4 linked regions of the Homo sapiens genome follow. The protein of the gene in region 1 purifies or fractionates together with the protein of each later gene. This does not show direct contact. Each region holds a gene or a part of one and is shown on either strand. Other genes may lie near its edges. The genes, in order: RCBTB1, ABCD4, HELZ and HOXB6.

Evidence for each region.
Region 2: the proteins of RCBTB1 (region 1) and ABCD4 purify together in Homo sapiens (co-immunoprecipitation; one large-scale study listed by IntAct). This does not show direct contact.
Region 3: the proteins of RCBTB1 (region 1) and HELZ purify together in Homo sapiens (affinity purification with mass spectrometry, with the first as the bait; one large-scale study listed by BioGRID). This does not show direct contact.
Region 4: the proteins of RCBTB1 (region 1) and HOXB6 purify together in Homo sapiens (co-immunoprecipitation; one large-scale study listed by IntAct). This does not show direct contact.

The regions. Positions count from the first base shown.
Region 1 is NC_000013.11:49,538,752-49,544,392, forward strand, and holds part of RCBTB1 (RCC1 and BTB domain-containing protein 1), read right to left. Parts: intron 3,077-5,641; coding exon 2,925-3,076; intron 2,256-2,924; coding exon 2,125-2,255; coding exon of another isoform or gene 2,116-2,124; exon of another isoform or gene 1,657-2,115; intron 1-1,656. UniProt on the Homo sapiens protein: May be involved in cell cycle regulation by chromatin remodeling.
Region 2 is NC_000014.9:74,284,741-74,290,381, reverse strand, and holds the end of ABCD4 (lysosomal cobalamin transporter ABCD4), read left to right. Parts: coding exon 1-91; intron 92-263; coding exon 264-355; intron 356-862; coding exon 863-899; intron 900-1,096; coding exon of another isoform or gene 1,097-1,227; exon of another isoform or gene 1,228-1,270; intron 1,271-1,616; coding exon 1,617-1,666; coding exon of another isoform or gene 1,667-1,722; intron 1,723-2,122; coding exon 2,123-2,175; exon of another isoform or gene 2,176-2,178; intron 2,179-2,495; coding exon 2,496-2,572; intron 2,573-3,565; coding exon 3,566-3,681; coding exon of another isoform or gene 3,682-3,708; exon of another isoform or gene 3,709-3,852; coding exon 3,853-3,921; 3' UTR 3,922-5,113; downstream 5,114-5,641. UniProt on the Homo sapiens protein: Lysosomal membrane protein that transports cobalamin (Vitamin B12) from the lysosomal lumen to the cytosol in an ATP-dependent manner. Targeted by LMBRD1 lysosomal chaperone from the endoplasmic reticulum to the lysosomal membrane.
Region 3 is NC_000017.11:67,185,123-67,190,763, reverse strand, and holds part of HELZ (probable helicase with zinc finger domain), read left to right. Parts: intron 1-408; coding exon 409-607; intron 608-1,067; coding exon 1,068-1,175; intron 1,176-2,147; coding exon 2,148-2,445; intron 2,446-5,641. UniProt on the Homo sapiens protein: May act as a helicase that plays a role in RNA metabolism in multiple tissues and organs within the developing embryo.
Region 4 is NC_000017.11:48,598,619-48,602,488, reverse strand, and holds part of HOXB6 (homeobox protein Hox-B6), read left to right. Parts: intron 1-147; exon of another isoform or gene 148-414; intron 415-825; exon of another isoform or gene 826-1,061; intron 1,062-1,943; exon of another isoform or gene 1,944-2,042; intron 2,043-3,870. UniProt on the Homo sapiens protein: Sequence-specific transcription factor which is part of a developmental regulatory system that provides cells with specific positional identities on the anterior-posterior axis.

The sequences.
Region 1 (5,641 bases):
TATATATACACACACACACACATATATATATATGCCCTAGAAATAAAGAGGTGAGTCTTTCTTTTTGTCTTCTTTCTATTCTCTAATTTTTCTACGTTGAATCTGTAATATTTGTAGGATTTTAAGTTTTTTTTAACTTTTTTTTTTTTTTTGAGACAGAGTCTTGCTCTGTTGCCCAGGCTGGAGTGCAGTGGTACAACTTCTCCCTCCCAGATTCAAGCAATTCTCCTGCCTCAGCCTCCCGAATAGCTGGGATTACAGGTACGCACCACCACACCCAGCTAATTTTTGTATTTTTAGTAGAGACAGGGTTTCACCATGTTGGCCAGGCTGGTCTCAAACTCCTGATCTCAAGTGGCCCACCTTGGCCTCCCAAAGTGCCGGGATTACAGGCGTGATCTCCAAGCCTGGCCATTTTTTTTTTTTTAAGCACACCTTCATGGTGAGGTATTTCAAATGTTTTCACTCATTTATTTAATTCAACATGCATTTTTGAGCGCCAGCTCCATGCCCACACTGTGACAGACTCTGGGGAATCACACTTATTTGGAGTCTTTCTAAAGGAAGTTTTTATCATGTTTATACTTAATATGAGAAAAATGAAAACTAGTAAAGGAAATGACCTGCTGGCACAGGAAGCAGCAGCAGAGGCTTTTTCTGTAAACTTCCTAGGACAGATCTTAGCTAAAAGTGAGGAAGAAGTTTCCAGCAACTTGAGCCGAGACATCTGCCTCTGCCCAGGTTGTTCTCACTGGTGTTAGTCAGCAAGGTCTGATCCTGAGTATGGAACTCGTTAACAAGGAGGAGGAGCGTGGAGAGGCCCAGAGAGGATTCTAACATCCGTCACCAAATGGACAGAAAAGGCACTAACCCAATTTAAAATTATATCACCGGGTGGAAATAAAATCTAAAGAAACAGCTTTTCTAATAAAGAGGTTCAGGGTGTCACAGGAAGGACAGGAAAAAAATCATACCCCATTTTCTATTAGAAATGATTTACTTTGATCATCATTCCATCTGTTGTCGGGCTGCAGACAAAGTCAGCTACATTTGACCTTATCAAATATTTATAATCAGAATATAGCCTCAAACAAAAATAAGATACATTTTGAAAACATCGTGGTCAACTTTGATCCCTATGTGTGATGAAGTGTGTCCTCTTATACCTCAAAGGACACAGCTGCAGATCTTTGCAGGTGTTTGATAAACTCCTTGATACCAGATATTCTGCTTTGTCAAATGACAAAGTATCTGCAAGGATAGGCTAATTGTAACATTCTACATGCACAACTTAGCTAGATATTTTGAAACTCCAAGGCTATTGCTCTCTACCTTTTATTCTCTCTGAATCTGTGAAACCAACCATACCCGCCTTCAGCTCACTGATCATCCTTAATGCTTCCTTTAAGGTACTATCTTCATCCAGTTCAACATTTATCAGGTGCCTAATATGTGCCAGGCACTATAGGGTATACAGACGAATGAGACAGTTCCTGCTCACGAGGAGCTTACAGTCTGATGCTTTGGTTCTTCAAAAAAATGCACACAAACTTTCAGACTCCCCAAAGCCCATTAATTCACAGGCTCAACAGATCTGTGAATCTCAGATTAAGAACTCAACCCAGTGCAAAAACAAAAGGAGTCCACAGCAAGTTCTTAACAGGTAAATAACTGTGAGCTGTAATTAGACACTAATAGAATTGCAGAGCGTACACAGATACAAATCATACACATCCCCAGCTTATGACAGGGCAGAGGTGGAAAGACAGCAAGGTAAGTCTCGAAATAAACACATATGCTGACATTAAGAAAGACTTGAAACTAAAATATGCTGTTTGTTAGTCCAATTAGTTGTGGCACCTTATGTTCCAACCTGCAGCACAGCTGCTAGGACCTTGGTTCGTTTCCTGTCTTACTTAGAAATGAAAGTAGAGGAACAACGACTTTTGAAACAATGAACAGGGAATTAAGAAGCAAGGGCAGATTTCAGTTTTCAATGGGTTCACTGATTCCCTAAACAGAAGTGGAGTGACTCATCGTTTTCCATGCCTCACGCAAGAAGCGGGGGAGACGAGCACAAAGGGAGTTAAAGGTGGTCTGGTTTCTGTTTGTTGTTTAAGTTACCTCTGCATCATATCTGACTGCAGCAGAGAATAGCGAAAAGGCATTCTCCACAGTAATTCCTCTCTTGATAATGTGCTGACAAAGTTTTTTCAGTCTGTTTTCACAGTAAGATGTCGCCAAATCCAGAAGACCTAAAAGTAAAATATGTGAAAGGTTTAATCAAATGTATAATAATTTCCAATACACAGAGATTTTGTTTTGGTGAACAGAGGTGTACAGGTAAATTAGAAGTTTCTTAGTGGATAAGATTCTGAATTTGAGTAAATAAATTCTCTTTTTTACTGTCTGCCTCCTCCACTTCCACACCTCTCCTATATTTACTTTATACAATTTCTTCAATAGTGCAAAGAAAGAGCAAAAAATGCAATTTCAATCCTCATTTTGTTTCTAAAACGCTAAATGCATTAGCAACTTATACTTCACTACTAGAAAATTAAAATAAGCCCATAGCTTAATACCTAGGTGATGGGTTGACAGGTACAGCAAACCACCATGGCACACGTTTACCTATGTAACAAGCCTACACATCCTGCACGTGTACCCCAGAACTTAAAAATAAATTAAAAAAAAAAAAGTCCTTCAGTAACATTAGAACAAAAAAGCCTATGGTCATAAACTAGGTCCAAAACTATTAACCATAATAACTACACAATACTACTTTTAAAGATACTTACTTCAAATCTTTTTTAAGCACCAAATTAAAGCCAATACACCTGAAGCTTTTTACATTTCAGGACTAAGAATATGAGGGGATATATTCTCCACCATGCGGCTCGTCCATCCCAATGCTACCACAGTACCTATAGCATCTTCTGGCGGCAGGTCGACTGTGTCTGTGTAGAGGTACTGGAGAAAGGCACGATACACTGGGTAAGAAAACTGATCGATTTCTATCACTTCCTTCATGTCTTCATTCCAATACGACTGGAACATGGATCGAAAATGCTCACACCTAAAACAGCAAAGCAAAAGTCTTATTTGTTCAGCAGCAATTTTTAAAAAAGAAAAAAAAATTACCTAATTAAGTTGATAAAATCAGATAAACAGAAGTATCCTTGGGCCGGGCGTGGTGGCTCATGCCTGTAATCCCAGCACTTTGGGAGGCCAAGCGGGTAGATCACCTGAGATCAGGAGTTCGAGACCAGCCTGACCAACATGGATAAACCCCGTCTCTACTAAAAATACAAAATTAGCTGGGCATGGTGGTGCATGCCTATAATCCCAGCTACTCAGGAGGCTGAGGCAGGAGAATCGCTTGAACCCGGGAGGTGGAGGTTGTGGCGAGCCGAGATTGCGCTTCTGCACTCTAGCCTGGCAACAAGAGCAAAACTCCGTCTCAAAAAAAAAAAAAAAGTAAGTATATTAACTACTATCTGGGCCTGAACACACCAGGATCACAGACCTTTAGTTAGCACCCAAAAAACATTCCACATGCAAGTGGTTTTTGTACATGCCTTTTACATACACTCACTTTCATTTTTTGTAACTCCTATTAAATACTAATAGGTATACATAGAGCCTGGAAGTACCTAGCACTTCCACTACTGTTTCCATTTGATGGTCCCCAAGATTTTTTTGCTCCTTTGTTTTTTTTAAAATGATGTACAGAAATGCATTTTAAACAATAAAGTGAAAGAAATTCAGAAACAAGAGTTCAAAACTTTTGACTATGTATCAACATTAAAATGATTCATTTGTTTTTTGTTTTACATAATAAGCATATTCTTAAAACTGTTTTATATGTTAACTGGATTACATCAAGCTGATTATTGTCTGATTATCCGACAATTTTTCTTCTTTTCTGACTTATCGTCAAAACAGCCATCACTCCTTTTTTTTTTTTGCATTGCCTGTTCCCCTTCCTCTCTTCCCAGGCCTGCTACAAGCTTATTTATAAAACACTCACATCCACTAGGATAGTCAGATATTTCAAGAAAACCTGAGCAGCTCCTACACTGTATTTACATGTACAAAGCCACCTGCACAAGAAACTGATTTCTGAATATTGGATTTTCTTATGTATAACACAGTTGTATCTTTCTAAAAATCATATTTTTAAATTATTTTAAAGTGAGATACGGCACAAAGAGAAAAAGTATTCTGAGGTGCAGTGGCTCAAGCCTGTAATTCCAGCACTTTGGGAGGCCGAGGCAGGTCAGCCTCAATCACCTGAGGTCAGGAGTTTGAGACCGGCCTGGCCAACATGGCGAAACTTTGTCTCTACTTAAAATACAAAAATTAGCTGGGCGTGGTTAGTGCACGATTGTAATCCCAGCTACTTGGGAGGCTGAAGCTGGAAGATCGCTTGAACACAGGAGGTGGAGGTTGCAGTGAGCTGGTATTACGCCACTGCACTCTAGCCTGGGTGACAGAATGAGTCTCTGTCTCAAAAAAAAAAGAAAAAGAATCCATTCAGAATACTAAAAAAATAGTTTCACTTACATAAAAAATTACCTGAGAAATAAAAAAGAAATAGTTGTCTAAGAAAGAATCATGGATTTCATGGTCAGAAAACTGTACATGAAAGGAATAGACTGGTTGACCACAGGTGCACAGACAGAAACAGTTCCAGTTCATCTTTTCAATTAATACTGTGGTTCAGATATTTACTCCCTTAGGTAAGGAATGACATAGGGCTTTTCTGTTCCTTTCAAATGTATTTCTTTGCCAATAGGTTTTTACCTAAATTTCCAAAAAGACTTGTAAATGGCCACTTTAATGGTCTTAGCTTATGTGCCTTTTTCTGCAATGGCAACCTTTGTGGCAAACAGTTACTAATAAACGCATAGGTCCCTCACATTTATACAAGGAACTATATCTTAAAAACTTTTTTTTTCATTTTTGAGATAAGATCTCACTCTGTCTCCCAGGATGATCACAGCTCACCACAGCCTTGATCTACTGGGCTCAAGCAATCCTTCCACCTCAGCCTCCAGAGCAGCTGGAACTACAGGAATGCACCACCACACCTGGCTAATTTTTTCTATTTTTTGTAGAGACAGTGTCTCGCTATATTGCCTAGGCTGGTCTCAGACTCCTAGGATCAAGTGATATTCCCGCCTTGGCCTCCCAAAGTCCTAGGATTACAGGCATGAGCCACCATGCTGAGCCTAGAACATTCTTCAATTGGTAATTGCATGTCCCTTAGAAACAGAAGCACAGCATTCCTATGAGAGTTTTCTGCTTAATCTATAATTAAAAGAGGGCATATACACTTTTCAATAACAACCTTTTGTATTTTCTTTAACCACGTAAATAAATTTTCTGATGGAAATGAGTATTCACCAGATTCTTAATTTAAAAAACAATATAAGCTGGGCGTGGTAGCTCACATCTGTAATGCCAGCACTTTGGGAGGCTGAGGCGGGCAGATCACCTGAGATCGGGAGTTCGAGACCAACCTGACCAACATGGAGAAACCCCATCTCTATTATAAATACAAAATTAGCCAGGCATGGTGGCGCCTGCCTGTAATCCCAGCTACTCAGGAGGCTGAGGCAGGAGAATCACTTAAACC
Region 2 (5,641 bases), on another chromosome or scaffold:
GAGGGACAGAGCCTGCTCATCACAGGCAACACGGGCACTGGCAAGACCTCCTTGCTCCGGGTTCTGGGTGGCCTCTGGACGAGTACACGGGGTGAGAGCCAGGCCCTCCCTGCCTCTGACCCAGCCTGGGCCCTAGGGGTGGGGTGAAGGCGGGGACGGTGTGGTAGAATCCATTCTTTTCTGTTGGGGAACAAGGAAGAGAGGAGACAGGCAGTTGCCTCTTCTGGGAGATCTCACAATGGAGGTTTCTGTGGGCTCTGCAGGCTCAGTGCAGATGCTGACGGACTTTGGGCCCCATGGGGTGCTATTCCTGCCACAAAAGCCATTCTTCACTGACGGGACCCTTCGGGAGCAGGTCAGTCTAGTTCAGGGGGCTCACTCCTCCCTCCTCAACCCCGCCCACCCACAGCTGGGACCTCTGGCACTGTGACAAGTCTCAGGTCCTAGAGTCAGGGCAAAAGGTGAGGTGGTGAAGTGGCCCGGGCCTGGGAACTGCTGGCTCTAAGAACCTTCTATTCACATCCATGGATTGGGCCCACTACTCATAGCAGCTCCTGAGGCAGGTAAATGGGGCAAGGACTCACGCCAAATACCACACGCGTATGTCAAACACCCAAGGTCGGATTCTGGGGCCCCTGCCCTCAGGAGGCTGTCAGACTGTTCCCCCTAAACACACTTCTGAAGGTTGTAGGGACCTTGCCCTGCTGTCTGCCGGCCAGAGCCTCTCCCATCTGACCCAGGCCAGGCGTTCCCACCTCTCCTCCTTGGGAGGTTCCAGTGGGTTCTGGAGGGAGGGTGGGCTGTGTGCAGCTCCGTCTTTTGCTCGCCCTCCTAGGTTGGTGTGGTTTTTTTCTTTTCTCAGGTGATATATCCCCTGAAGGAGGTCTACCCCGACTCAGGTGAGCTGGTCCTCCTTAGGTCATGTCCTCTCCTTCTGTCATGGTTGTCCCTGCTCTACCTGACTGTGGCCTCATCTGTGCCCTTGGGGAGAGGCTCCAGCCAGGCCGCTGATTCAAGGAAGAGGGGCTCCTCTCCTCTTCCTTTGACTGTTTTGGGGTCTGTACCCAGATCTCACCTCATTCTTTCTGTCCTTAAGGAGAGATGCCCACTGGGACAAGGAAAGTGATGCCTTCCTTCACCCACCCCTTCCCTTATGAAGATCTGCAACCTGTGGTTTCAAAGCCTTCGCCCAGCATTCTGAGGCCCCCACCCCTGCATCATCCATGATGTGCCCTGTCTATTCTTTTTTTTTTTTTTTTTTTTTTTTTTTGAGATGGAGTTTCACTCTGTCACCCAGACTGGAGTGCAGTGGTGTGATCTCGGCTCACTGCAACCTCCACCTCCCGGGTTCAAGCAATTCCCCTGCCTCAGCCTCTTCCGTAGCTGGGGCTACAGGTGCACGCCACCTTGCCTGCCTAATTTTTGTATATTTAGTAGAGACAGCGTTTCACCATGTTGGCCAGGGTGGTCTCCATCTCCTGACCTTGTGATCCACCTGCCTCGGCCTCCCAAAGTGTTGGGATTACAGGCGTGAGCCACTGTGCACAGCCTTGCCCTGTCTATTTTGACCAGCCAGGAGGCTCTGGCTTTTTGCAGAAGGCTTCTTTGTTGTGCAGGTTCTGCCGATGATGAGAGGATCTTGAGGTTCTTGGAATTGGCAGGCCTGGTAAGTGGGGAGAGGGACCCTCAGGACCCGAGCCCACCTGGGAGCACCAGCTACAGGTAGGCAGGTGCTGGCCCTGCTATGCTTGGGCCCAGGACTGGAAGTCTGAACCTGGGGTGGAGAATGGGAGTATCAGTTGACAGTGTGTGCTGTTGGCCAGGTTTAGGCACGAAGGGGGTAGTGCTCTCATTGGAGAATTTTAAAACAAGAATAGGATTGATGAAGGCGGTTTGCTTTTTACTGTCATCATGCTCCAGCAAGTCTAAACAGTGTCATTGGTAGAATATTCCTCTCTGCCTGGGGCAGACTGTCCCACAGTCCCCCGCCTTGGTATGCCACTGGGGCATATATTTGTCTTAGAGGTGTGTGTGTATGCTGGGGAGTGAGGGAGGTTCCCCATGATGGCAGGTAGCAGGGCTGGCCATTTCATGGACATCCTGCCCTCTGGGTCTGTTACAGTCCAACTTGGTGGCAAGGACAGAGGGCCTGGACCAGCAGGTGGACTGGAACTGGTAAGAAAAGAGCTTGGGTGCTCCAGAGATAGCCCCACCATAAAGACAGTGGGTTTCAGGGTCCCTGTCAAGGAATGGAACGGCTCCTGACCCCAAAGTCCAGATGTTTGGCTGGTCAGTCGGGTGCAAGTTTATGCCCTTGGGAACAGAGTTTTGCCTCACTCTGTGAGGGCTGTAGGCCTATGGTCGAAAGGGAAGGGGCTTCTGTCTCCTGGGGCTCACCTCTGTGCAGAGAAACCTCTTCCTACCCAGACCATTCTAGGTAAAAGCCAAGCTATATTCTTCCTCCTCTAGCAGTCCTCTCTCCTACCTTTCCTCAGGTATGATGTTCTGTCCCCGGGGGAGATGCAACGGCTCTCCTTTGCCCGACTCTTCTACCTGCAGCCGAAGTACGCAGGTGAGGTCTCGCCTTGTGGCTGCACATGCCATGCGCTGTCTGCACTCACGGGTGTAGCAGCATGTGTTCACAGGCACCCAGGCACACCTGTGAATGGCTGGGCTTCTCCGCATTCCCTGCTGGAGAGGACAGCAGGCCCTGCCCGTGTAAACAGTGCCTGGCATCGTCAGAGTTAACACTGAATATGCGGTACTGCCAGCTCATAAGCTTGCTTTTCTTCTGTTTTCTTTTTTCTTTTCTTTTTTTTTTTTTTTTTTTGAGACAGTCTCACTCTGTCACCCAGGCTGGGGTACAGGGGCACAGTCATGGCTCAGTGCAGCCTGGAACTCCCAGGCTTAAGTGATCCTCCCACCTCAGCCTCCTGAGTAGCTGGGACTACAAGCATGTGCCACCACACCCTGCTAATTTTTTTATTTTTATTTTTGTAGAGACAGGGTCATGCTATGTTGCCCAGGCTGGTCTGGAGTTCCTGGACTCAGGCCATCCTCCCACGTTGGCCTCCCAAAGTGCTGGGATTACAGGCATGAACCACTATGCCTAGCTCATAAGCTTTTTGCCTGGCAGCAGCTGGAGCCAGGAGCCAACATTGAAGGGTTATAATTTTATGCTCCTCTGGCTCCACCATCAAATGAATGGGCACCCATCCTCCTCTCCCACCAAGCTGTGCCTGGCAGGTGGATGGGTGTGGACTTTTCCAAAGACTGACATTCTTGCGGGGGACTGGGATTCCCTGGATTGAGTGGTCCCAGGGAGTGGCTGGTGCTTATCTATAGAAGCTGAGAGATTTCATGCAGCTGCTCACAGGCTATTCCCTTGGAGAGTCTGGCCCTCTGCTCCTCTGGCCCATCCTTCTCCCTGAGGCAGGGCTTCTGGAAGCCAGAGCAGCTTTCAGCCTCCCCTGGGTCCCAGCTGGGGTTGAGTATGGGTGGGAGGAGAAGCAGCGGCGGCAGAGGGCAGGGCTTTGATCTCTTCCTCTGTGCTCTGCCCCCTCAGTGCTTGATGAAGCCACCAGTGCCCTGACAGAGGAAGTGGAGAGCGAGCTCTATCGCATCGGCCAGCAGCTGGGGATGACGTTCATCAGTGTGGGACATCGGCAGAGCCTTGAGAAGGTACCCGTGCTCACAAGGATGGCCTGAGGAGGAGAAAGAACCCAAAGGCTCAGCCTGGCCAGGGCCAGAGGCCCCTCAAAACGGGGAGTAGCAGTAGCAGAGAGAACCGAGTGGCCTCCTCTGCCAGCGGCCAGGGCAGCCTGATCTCCATGTGGTGGTGGTCTCTTGTAGTTTCATTCCTTGGTTCTGAAACTCTGTGGAGGAGGAAGATGGGAGCTGATGAGAATCAAAGTGGAATGAAGCTCTGGCTTTTGGAAGGAGAGCCACACTGTGGCGGGTCGGCGGCCCTCAGGAGAGACCAGGAGGACTGACAGCGAAGATCGAGCTCAGGTTCGCCACATAGATCCCGTGCAGGAGCCACATGGGTCCTGTGCAGGACCCCTAGCAGTGGTGGGCTGAGCCCAGGTCTAGGTTTCTGTGGGGGACACTGAATCTCCCAGTGTTCAGTCTCCCAGGACTCTGCTGCCTCAGCCAGAGCCTCCATATGCTTGAAGTGCTGATTACCTACAAATGATTTCAGATCATGTTTGCTAAAGAGAAATCTGGAAGTGTGAGATCTGTAAGAAATGAAAGAAATGACTCTTGGAGTCAAGAGATCTGGAAATCTTTTAATCAGTTAAATTGTGCAGCAATAGATTTTTAACTTTAACTGACCATTTAAGTTTTTTAATAAGTTTTTTACAAAGAAAAGTTAAACATTAAAAAGAATTACAGCTTTCTGTCTTCTCTATCATGGAATGATCTTTTTTATTGAATCTCCAGATTTGTATTTGACAGCTTGGTGGGAAGGGAAGCACACTCTGCTGTTCTGGAATCTTATGCCCAGGGTTTTTCACTTCTCCCCACATCTCCCTTTCCACTTGCCAGTGTTGTGTAGTTAGAACCTGAACCACTAACTTCCAGGGGCCTTTGGTCTGCCCTACCTTAACCCAAATGAAAGTAAATCCCTTTCCCCTTAGCCAAAATAAGGTTGGGTTTTCTAAAAAAATAGTCTATATTAGGGAACAACAACAGCAAATTAGACAAAACCCAGAAAGCACAAAGCATGAGGTGGAGTTACTGTGCCCAAAGTCCTCACTCAGACCAGTGCCCCTCCAGTTCAGTTGTCTATGTATTACCTTCCTTACCTTCATAATTTTTGCCAGGCTTCTGTACTTCTAGTACTTGAGTTACTTAATATTTTTAAAAACAAACCTTTTAAGTTTAAATGGATTTTTAAGTGAAATTTTACACTTAACATAGATGGAAAGTAACTAAAAATAAATACAAGAAAAACCATCGGTGTTATTAACTTACGGCTAGATGCTGTTGCCTGCATAGACTCTGGGCCTGAGGCTTGTTCATTTTGTAAAAAAGAGAGGTGAGGAGTTAGACGGACTGGCACTCAACTGAGATTTTTCTCCTTAATAAAATCAGAAAGATGGAGTGAGAATTGTATTTTCTCACTGTAAAATATAAGATTATTTAACGCTTTCTTGGTACCACTTAAAAATGACTTACTCTATCCTTACTGACTTCTTCAGCTCCTAAGCCTTTTTCACAGACGCTGCTGCCGCTGCCAAGTTATTTTGTTTATTTTTATTTTTTATTATTTATTTTTGAGACAGTGTCTCACACCTCACTCTGTAGCCCAGGCTGTAATCTAGTGGCACAATCACAGCTTATTGCAGCCTTGACTTCCCGGGCTCAAGTGATCCTCCCACCACAGCCTCTCAAGTAGCTGGGACCACAGGCAGGAGCTCCTATGCCCAGCATCCAGATTATTTTGGAGACCAATTCATTCCTATCTCAGGGTCTTTGCATTTGCTGCTTCCTCTGCCTCTAACTGGTTTCCAGTGCTGTTCTGTTCTTAACACTTAGCCTTCTCCCTCACAGAAACTGCCCAAGAAAGCTACTCCTAGGGGCACACTCTGCACCTCTATCCCTCCCTCATGTCAGAGATGGAGACTACTCTTAGATG
Region 3 (5,641 bases), on another chromosome or scaffold:
ACTCCAGCCTGGGCAACGGAGTGAGACTCCGTCTCAAAAACAAAAAACAAAAAATCAAAAACAAAACCCAGTTACACTAAGAGGAATTGTCTAGTAAGAGTCCTTATATGACCAAGGAAGCTACTTTTCAGTGCCTCTTTTGGAGGGCCGACGTGAATACCTATGCCTTAGGATCCCCTAATTCCAGAGAAAGTCAGTGAATAATATGGGGAGCTGATGTTTTGGTTAACTGTTGTAAATGTTCTCTAAACCTCTTCTCCCTCCTTTGTACAAGACAGTACGATAAATATGGCCTTTCAGCACATGAAGTTTTGTTTTTATTGAAGAATCAGAGGGCAAATGCTGGGAGTTTATTTTTAAATGGTTCAACAAAGTATATGATAAAACAGTCTTTCCTATTCTACTTAGATTTTTAGAACAAGGAATCTGTAGGTATGGTGCCCAGTGTACTTCAGCACATTCCCAGGAAGAACTAGCAGAATGGCAGAAAAGATATGCTTCACGGCTGATAAAATTGAAACAGCAAAATGAGAATAAACAGCTCTCAGGCAGTTACATGGAAACCTTGATAGAAAAGTGGATGAATTCATTGTCTCCTGAGAAAGTGGTGAGGAAAATAAGCTACATTATTTTTTGTTTGTCTTAAACAATGAACTTGAGTCTTGACTTTATTGTGTGCTCTATTTTGGTTTATTTCCTTATCTTCTTTGCAAAGAACTTGATTCTGATAGAATGATGTTTTTAGTAGCTATAGTAGACCCATTTGTTAAAATGAAGAGCAGAACTAAACCACTTGTTTGGAGATTTGCCTGTACTGTATTAATTACCTTCATTCAGGCAGTTTTTGAGTGCCATTTTTGTGGTGGTGGTTAATTTTCTTTTCTCTCTTATTTTAGCTTTACTATATTTTGTTCTTGTCAAAATTACTGAAAATGAAGGTATAAAATACTTTGGTCTGTAAACAGTTCCATCATCATCTTAACTGTTGACATTTATTTTCCATGCTAAAAGATTTTGTTTGTGCCCTTAGCAATAAAAACATAACATAAATTGCTGTCTGTTTTCAGCTTAGTGAATGTATAGAAGGAGTAAAGGTAGAGCACAATCCTGACCTGTCAGTTACTGTCAGCACCAAAAAATCCCACCAGACATGGACCTTTGCTCTCACTTGTAAGGTATGAATTTTGTGCTAGTTAAAGCATAAAAGTTGTGTTTAATTTTCTGAACGTTTTTTTGACCTTTGAATCTCTGTGTTAAAGAATATTGAAAATATTTTAATCTAAGTACATTATATATAGGTTCTATATTGTACTAAAGTATATTTCTGTACTTTGATCATTAAAAGTACAATTTTAAAAATACTTTTAGATGAGATCTTTGTAGATATTTAGGGTGCTTTCATATTTATTTATTTGGTAAAGAGATCTTTGACATATTGTCTTCTAAACTTGGGACATAGGATGGGGTTCATGGCTTGTAATTAACTACTTAAAAATTGTTTATTCTAGTAGTTCTAAGATTTTTAAACCATAACAACTTGTTTTTATATTTGATATGATGAAGTCACAAATTCTGTGATAATGGGTTTTTAATATGGGGCATTTTCTGCAGTGCTTCCCATCTTAAATTATAGTAGTCAAAGTTTAAGATCGAAGCAAAGTAAAAAGTTTCTGTGAGTATGCTCAGTGGAAAAGTTTTTGTCTTTTTTGTGGCATTTCTTCTGCTGTACTTTCTGTATCTGGAGATGAAAAATCTAAGAACAGTTAGCTTCAGCCTTGAACCCAATCCAGTGCTTTCAGAGGTAACTGCCCTCTTACGAAGGCTTCCTACTTGAGGCTACATGAAACTTCTGTAGGTGAAGAGTATGGAAAGTTTGAAGGTTGATGGTTATATAGGGTGATAGCTTTTGCCACAGTGAAAAATGAACATGTCACAGGAAGAGAAGGGAGGCTAGCGATATAGCATAAATAAATAATTTTAACAACTGATTTTAAAAAACCATTCTGATTTTTTTCTTAAATGGCTATAGTATCTTAGAAGCTTGGGGAAGTAAAAGTCCCTTATGGAAATATTTTCATTGAAGAGCCCAATTACAATTGGATTTTTCACCCCCTTGTACTCAATGAATTATTTTAACTTCCTTGTAGCCTGCAAGAATGCTGTATCGTGTAGCATTGCTTTATGATGCTCATCGTCCTCATTTTAGTATCATTGCAATATCTGCCGGAGATAGTACTACCCAGGTATCACAAGAAGTCCCAGAAAACTGTCAAGAATGGATAGGAGGAAAGATGGCCCAAAATGGATTAGATCATTACGTGTATAAAGTCGGGATAGCATTTAACACAGAAATATTTGGAACTTTTCGCCAAACCATAGTTTTCGACTTTGGATTGGAACCAGTACTCATGCAAAGAGTAATGATTGATGCAGCTTCTACAGAAGGTAATATTTAGACTTTTTTCCCCCGATACAATGTGTTAAAAAGCAACATTCAAAGATATGTATTGGCCCCTGAATATATTCCATGGATAGGAAGAGAATAGTAATAAAGAAAAAAATCCCAACTTAATTGACTCATTTACTGTGTAATGGGCTTATAATGATTCACACTGTGCCCTGATTTCTTCACAGAGCCACCAGGTAAAGCTTGAACTTTGAGGTTCCCCAAACTTGTATGAGTAGATGATCAGACCTGTTTTGGTCTACCAGTTTCATTTCACAGTAAGATGGTTTTAGCACAGTAATATCTTTCAATATTAGTTTGGGTAGAATATCATTTTAATGGTAATTGTGTATATACCTACAATGTTTATTTTCATGTCCTATTGACTAGTTAACTTTGCTGATGTTAGTACATTGTTTCTGAATGAAAAGTCTTGAGTATAATAAGCCTTCATAAATCAGTTTGTGCATCCACTAGTGTTAAGGAGGCCAAGGGTGCCTTTAATCAAATCTGCTCTTTGTTTTTGGGAAGAGGTCCCTGGTTTCATCATGTAAGCATGACATAAGGAATTACTTTGTACATTGTCAATTTATTGCCTATATCTAAATTTTATGCCAAGATCCAACAGGACAAAGAAAGGACATGTTAGCCCACATTTCCTTTGCTCTTGGTTGGATTTATAGGTGTTCTATTCTATTTAACAAAAACTTTTTATTTAACAAACACTTCAAAAAGCAGAGCTGTGTGAAACTTGCTTTTGTATTGACTATAACTAACCATATTGTGGAGGACGTTTTTTACTATGTACCATAATGTCCCATTCATGAGAACCTAGAAGTAGTTTTTCTCATTAGCGAATGCTAGAATTTTATTTTTTTTCACATAGTGAAAAGGTGAAATTGGTCTGTCTTCCTCTTTACTTTAGCTGCTAGTAAGGTTGAAACAACGATGGTGCCCAAATTTAACAGTTAGGTGACATCTTCTTCTACGTGTGCTAAGATTACCCAGACTTCACTTTACCCTTATTTCCCACTGACTTTGATCCCTTTTACTTGTTTTTATTCTGTAGTATGTATTTTTGTCATCTTTTCAGTACTCTTTGGAATCAGAATAAATTAATTTCCATAGCTAAATAGATATGGTAGTTGATAAAATAAAAATAAAGTATTTGGCTTATATATATTAGCATAGTATTTGGCAAATTCTTTCTGCAGAGGGCCAGACGGTTAATATTTTAGGTGTTGCAGGGCAGGTGATCTCTGTTGCAACTACTCAGCTCTGCGTCGTAATGAGAAAGCAGCCATAGACAATGCATAAGCAAATGGGTGTGACTGTGTTCCAATAAAACTTTATTTTCAAAAACAATGGCTACATTTGACTTTCGTGTTGTAGTTTGCCTACCCCTGAACTAGTAAGTTGCTTTTAGAGACCAGACCTTGAGAACCACTAAGCAGCATCCTTTTTAAATCATAAAGAGATTTAAGTCATAAAGAGAGAACAACATACATTTCCTACTCTCAAATATAACTGTAAAGGATGTTCTTGGCTTACATGTGGGTTGTATTTTAGAAATTTGCTTGTAGGTTAGTGGCTTATAACTCAGACTCCTTTACCCATAGAAATGTTTGTAAGTGCTGTCAAGAATTCTTATTAGTTAGTAAAATATTTAATTAATAATATAAAATGTTAAATGTCTGCAGTAAAATGTAAAAGAACGATAGTATTAAAACATGATAATTAGAAAAGGTGGTGATGAAAAGGAGCTCAGGGTACTTTCATAGGCTTGAGAAGAGTAAAAGTACTTTGACTACTTCTGCCTCAGATACGAGTTACTTTTCTTGTTGGAGAAGAGCAGAGGACAAAAATCAGAGTCAAATAGAATAGGATTTGAATCCTGATTTTCGACTTATTGCCTGTGTGAGCCTGGGCAGAGTACTTAACTTCTCTGGGCTTCACGGGGAAACATCTGTAAAATGGGGCTAGTAATACCTGTCATAGATCATTGTGACAACCTGAAGCCTCGTACGACATCAGGCTCATAGTAGACGTTTAGTTAATAGTAGCTATTATGTTTATAATTAGCCTTGATTAGGATAATTTCTGGCTTATACACAAAAGGAAGAAAGTAGGAAAAGAGAAGAGTTGGGTTTTTTTTTTGTTTCTTTATTTTGTTTTTGTTTTTTAAAATGAGGACTCGGACTAGGGTGCAAGCAGAGGACTTAAAAAGCAGAGAGCCCTTGAGGCCACAGTGCCTGCAGATGTTGGCAAGAGAACACATTGTAGGAGTTGAAAGCGTAGTTTTCCAAGATGATTGATGTTTTGAGCCTGGTAGCTGGAAGAAACAAAGAATCTCCTTTCTGATATTTCTAACATATTAGTTTGAAAATTAAGTTTTACATTTCATTCAGATGTGGTAGAGAGGATTTATATAGACAAGGATATCCTCCTCTTTTTTCATAATACCATATCCTTTTTTTAGTGACTTCTTTGTAGTTTGATGTCTTTGCCTTTTTTCCTTTAAGATTTTACTTTTAAGTAGTTATGTGATAGAAAATAATTGAAAAAACTTAAGCATTTTCTTGGACTAATTTGGAAACATTAAAATGATTTCACATAGTGAAATTTGTTTAAAGACAAAGGAGAAATAACAAACAGTATGAAATCTACAAAATGCATTTTCTTATGTAAGATTTTGAAAGTTGGGGAAAGGAAAACTTAGATCTAGGTTTTAGGCAAGCTAGATGATATTGGGCTAACTTTTTTTGGTCATCAGCATAATGACTTATGCTAATTTTTAGCTCTTTGATAACTTCCCCACCCTTAAAATTGATGTCATTGAATATCTTACCATTTTGTTAACTCTTGAAATTTTTATTGCGTGACTACTTTTGTTTCATTGTGATTATGTGGAGAGTCCTAACAGAATTGTAAAGAAATAAAAGCAGAATATAAGTAGTGTAATATTTGTTTCTTGCTTTTATCTCAGTACTATTACAGTTAGTGTTTTTGATTATCACGGGAGAGTCCATGTCAGCAGAAAATATGTTTATGGGCAAACAATTTGTTTATGTGAAATTACAATTTTATAAAATGTTCTGAGACAATAAAAATGTAAAATGGCAGTGTCCTATTTTGTATCTTTTCCTGGAATACTTGTGTGGACAACATTCAGAGACATTGAGAGCAAGATAACTG
Region 4 (3,870 bases), on another chromosome or scaffold:
TAGGGCATATATAAAAAGGTCTAATTCTGCTTCCAGCGGGCAGGGGCCCTGAATCAAAGGGTGGAGGGATCAGAGCCGACACCCCCACCGCCATCCCCACCCCCACCCCACCAAGGCGCGGGAGAGGATGAGGCCGCTTGAGACATCCGAAGCCAAGGCTGTTCAAGGTTTATTTGGTTTTCTTCTCAGCCAAGGGAGGGGACCCGCAGGGCAGGCGCCGGCCCCGTCAGTTCCACTCGGTTGTCAAAAGACAAACCGGGTCTGTGTTCTCCTGGTTGGTTAGTGGGTTTTGCCAGCTCCTTGGTTGGTGGGTCCGTGGTGAAGGAATTGAACCGAATTTTCTGGAAACTGTTGATGTCTGCAAGTGAGTGCCGATCCCCTCCTCCATTCTCGATCTTTTCAAGCGAAGTCTACCTAAATATGATTTGGGAAAAATTTGGTAGTGGGACTGGGGCCAAATCCTTAAGGAACCACACCGTCGTAATTTCCGTTCCTGTTGGACCCTCCACACCGGCTTAACTCGACCTCCTTCCCAAGAGGGGGTGGCCAGGGCTAGGCTATGCGCCTCTGCTGCAGCGTTTGAATATTGGCCCCTGTCTCACGGGTTACTGATTAGCTTGGGCTTTCAAGCCGTAGGAGGAAGCTCTGGCAGTTCCTTTAAAGGTGCTGTGGTCCCCGTTCCTGGGTGGGGGTGGGGTTCCAGGAAATTGCCTGCGGTGCCAGGCAAACCAAGGTGTTGCCAGAGTCTGGCCGAGGGCTAGAGGAGCTGACGAGGTTAAGGGGCCTGGTGGTGCTGGGGACAAACACTGTGGCTGCAGCCCTCACCCTCTTTCGGCGCCTCTGGAGCAGCTCTTTATAGCTTTCCTGCGGCGAGGTGACTTTCTGGTGGCTATAAGGCCCGACTCAAGGAGCTGCTCTATAGGAGGCCCTGAGGGAGCCAGCCCTAGAAGGTCCTTGGCCCCTCTGAGATTTTGCTTTTGGGCAATCCAAAGGACATGTAGAGAAGTCAAGCTGGTACATGGTATTGAAACACTTCAGGGCCCTCAGGTTGTCCCCTGGACCTGCGGGTAGGAAACCGGGAGAGTGGGTTCAGCACTACTGCTCACTCCCCTAAAGATCAAAGAGGATGCCGCTCCTTTGCATAATGAAAATGAAGTCTTTGTACTTTGATTTGGAGGGGCCGATTTTAGGGCAAAGTGTCTCATCTAAACAGCCTCCCTCAACCTATGGGAGTGATCACTCAGTACCCCTGGGAACATTTATTTATGTTCCCCAAACCCAGAGAAACAGAGTCCAGGACGAGAATTGAGTTGAAATATTTTCATCCCACCCCACCCCAGCCAAAGTTGGGGGTGGTGGGAGAAGGTGCTCATCACCTCAAAGAGCTGAGGGAGAGGGCTTTATAGCTTAGAGGAAATTGGAAGCCTGGACAATGTCTCAGCACCCTCCCACACACACCACACCACACCACACACACACACACACACACACACACACGCAAATATCCCTCCTGAGGTTACCTATCAAGAATTTTACTCCCGAACTGAACACAACTTAGGAAACATTTTCCTGGGAGCTGGAATGTGTTAGCTTGCCCACAGGACTGCAGACTCACAGCATAGAAAATTACAATTATAAATCCTGCCTGTGGGGTATCTGTACAATCCCTCTGTTATGTACTCAAGAATTGGTACACACTTCTATCCATCTCTCTGAACACACACTTCCTCATTGAGGCAGGGAGAGACACCCCAGACTGGCGGATGGCTGAGCCCGCTGTGTATTTACATATTCCCCCAAGGAGACAGACAGAGGGCGGTGGACCGAACCACAGACAGATTCGTAGGGATCTGGCTCCAGAAAGGAGTCGGTCTCTGGCCTGCCCTGCCCGCCTGCTCTTTTTCCCAAACAAACGGATCAGACGAATAAACGCTCATAAATACCTCTGGGCTTAGATAAGAGCGATGAGGCGCTATTTTCTTTCATGCCCGACTCCAGGCGCCCAGGCCCGCCTGTAGTGGCTCCATCTCCAGACAAGCAACCTGCAGAGGTGAGGTTAATTTGGGGGCTGTGACTCTAAAGATAAGGCAATTATTTCCCTGCTTCTGACACAGGGAAATGCTCCCTTCCTCACCAGATCTTATTTTGTTCAGACTTCACTGAGAAAACCACACTATTTAGTGCTAGGATGGAGACATTGTGGGCAGGGAGGAGGCAGGGAAGGCTGAGGCCCAGGGCTCAGCCTCAGCAGTAGGCAGGGAGGTGCATGCAGGTACTCTCTCCCACTTTTCTCCCCCTGTTCAAATGGCCCCTAGTCCTCTCTAGAAGCAAGCCCAGCCATACCTAGATATGGAATATTTATCCTTCTTCATTATCAGGGGGTTTAAATTTGTTTTCTTAAATGCTTATCAAACACTCCCACAGAGTCAGGTTAGGAAGTAATTGGAGGCCATCTAGGGATGGCTATTTTGCCATTAAGGTACAGCCAAGAAGTTGCCCTGAGTTTAGAGAGCCTTGGAGACCACGTTGCAACCAAATAAGTTCCCACCCTTGGTGATCCAAGCTCAGTCCCCTGCCACCTTCCCTAGTGTCTTGTACCATCTTCAGTGGGCAGAACTTGGCCAGAAAAAGGAGCCCAAAGGAAGGACAAGGCAGAGGAGGGTCAGCCTGGCCTGACATCTGACTTTGTTCCATGCCCTGGCCCCTTCTTGTCCCCAGGTGTGAAGGTTGTCACCCTTCACTACTTGGCCTGTGTATGTATATTAGAATGTTGGGAATGCACTGTGGCCCTGTCTCCCAGCCTGGGCTCAATGCTTATTTTCCTTGGATGAAAGAGCCAGAGACATACATTCTCTGACACACCTAAATTTGTAAGGCGGCAAAGCTGATGATACAAACACGGGGTGTGGGAGGGAATTGTAGCGATGCTGAGATACAGACAGAAGGGAGAGGGGATGCTGGCTGATGGCTGGAAGCAGCCTGCTGAGTCCCCAAGAGAACGCAAACGACCTTCTCTCCCTATCAAACTAAAGCAAAAACCAAGTCTTGGGAAAGAATTAATTTTAAAAAGAACTGGCAGCTCCTACAGAGACTTAGAAGAGGAGTGAGGATGCATTTCTTCCCAGTGGTCTCTGACTGCCTCAACTATCAGGAGGGTTCAAAGCCCACAACTGGAAGAAGAATGATTTCTTCCTTGTGCCCAGATTTACTGGGACATCCCTGATTCCTGAAAATCCTATAGCCCAGGCTATTCTTAAGTCTTTTGGGATTGTAGAGGGTACTGGAGTGAGGGTTGCAGGCAGGATAGGGATCAGACAAATAAAGCCACCTAGGCTGAGGGATACCCCTCACTCCTTCACTCCATATCACCAAGTGAGGAGAGGGCTAGTCCCTTTCCCCAGTGCCCCTTCCCCTGCCAAGGGTGAGCAGCTGCATACTAGAACCAGGCAGAATGTTTTGGGCAGCCACCCTCGTCGCCGCCTTCCAAGAAGCTCCTAGTCTAGCCACAGAGTCAGAAGGGGAAGCTTGGGCTCAGTCCCTCCTGCCAGCTCCTCCTCTTCTGGGTCTTCTAGGCAGTGGGATCTGGCCTGCCCCCTCAGACCAGAAGGGTTGTGGAGAAGCAGGAACAATAAGCCGAGGCTTGGAGGAGACAGAGCAGATCTGATAAACAGGAAAAACGATGTTCAAAACCTGGGGAGGAGGGTGTTTCTTCTTTGCTTATCTTAGCGGAGAACTCTTCTCACCTTCTACCGACACAAAACCCTAGAAACAAACCTTCTTTAGTTCTCTCTCAAGGCGATTCGGAGACATTTACCCAACCCTCCCCGGAGAGAAGGGGTCGAAGCAACGCAGGGGTTAACTTTTCTGAAA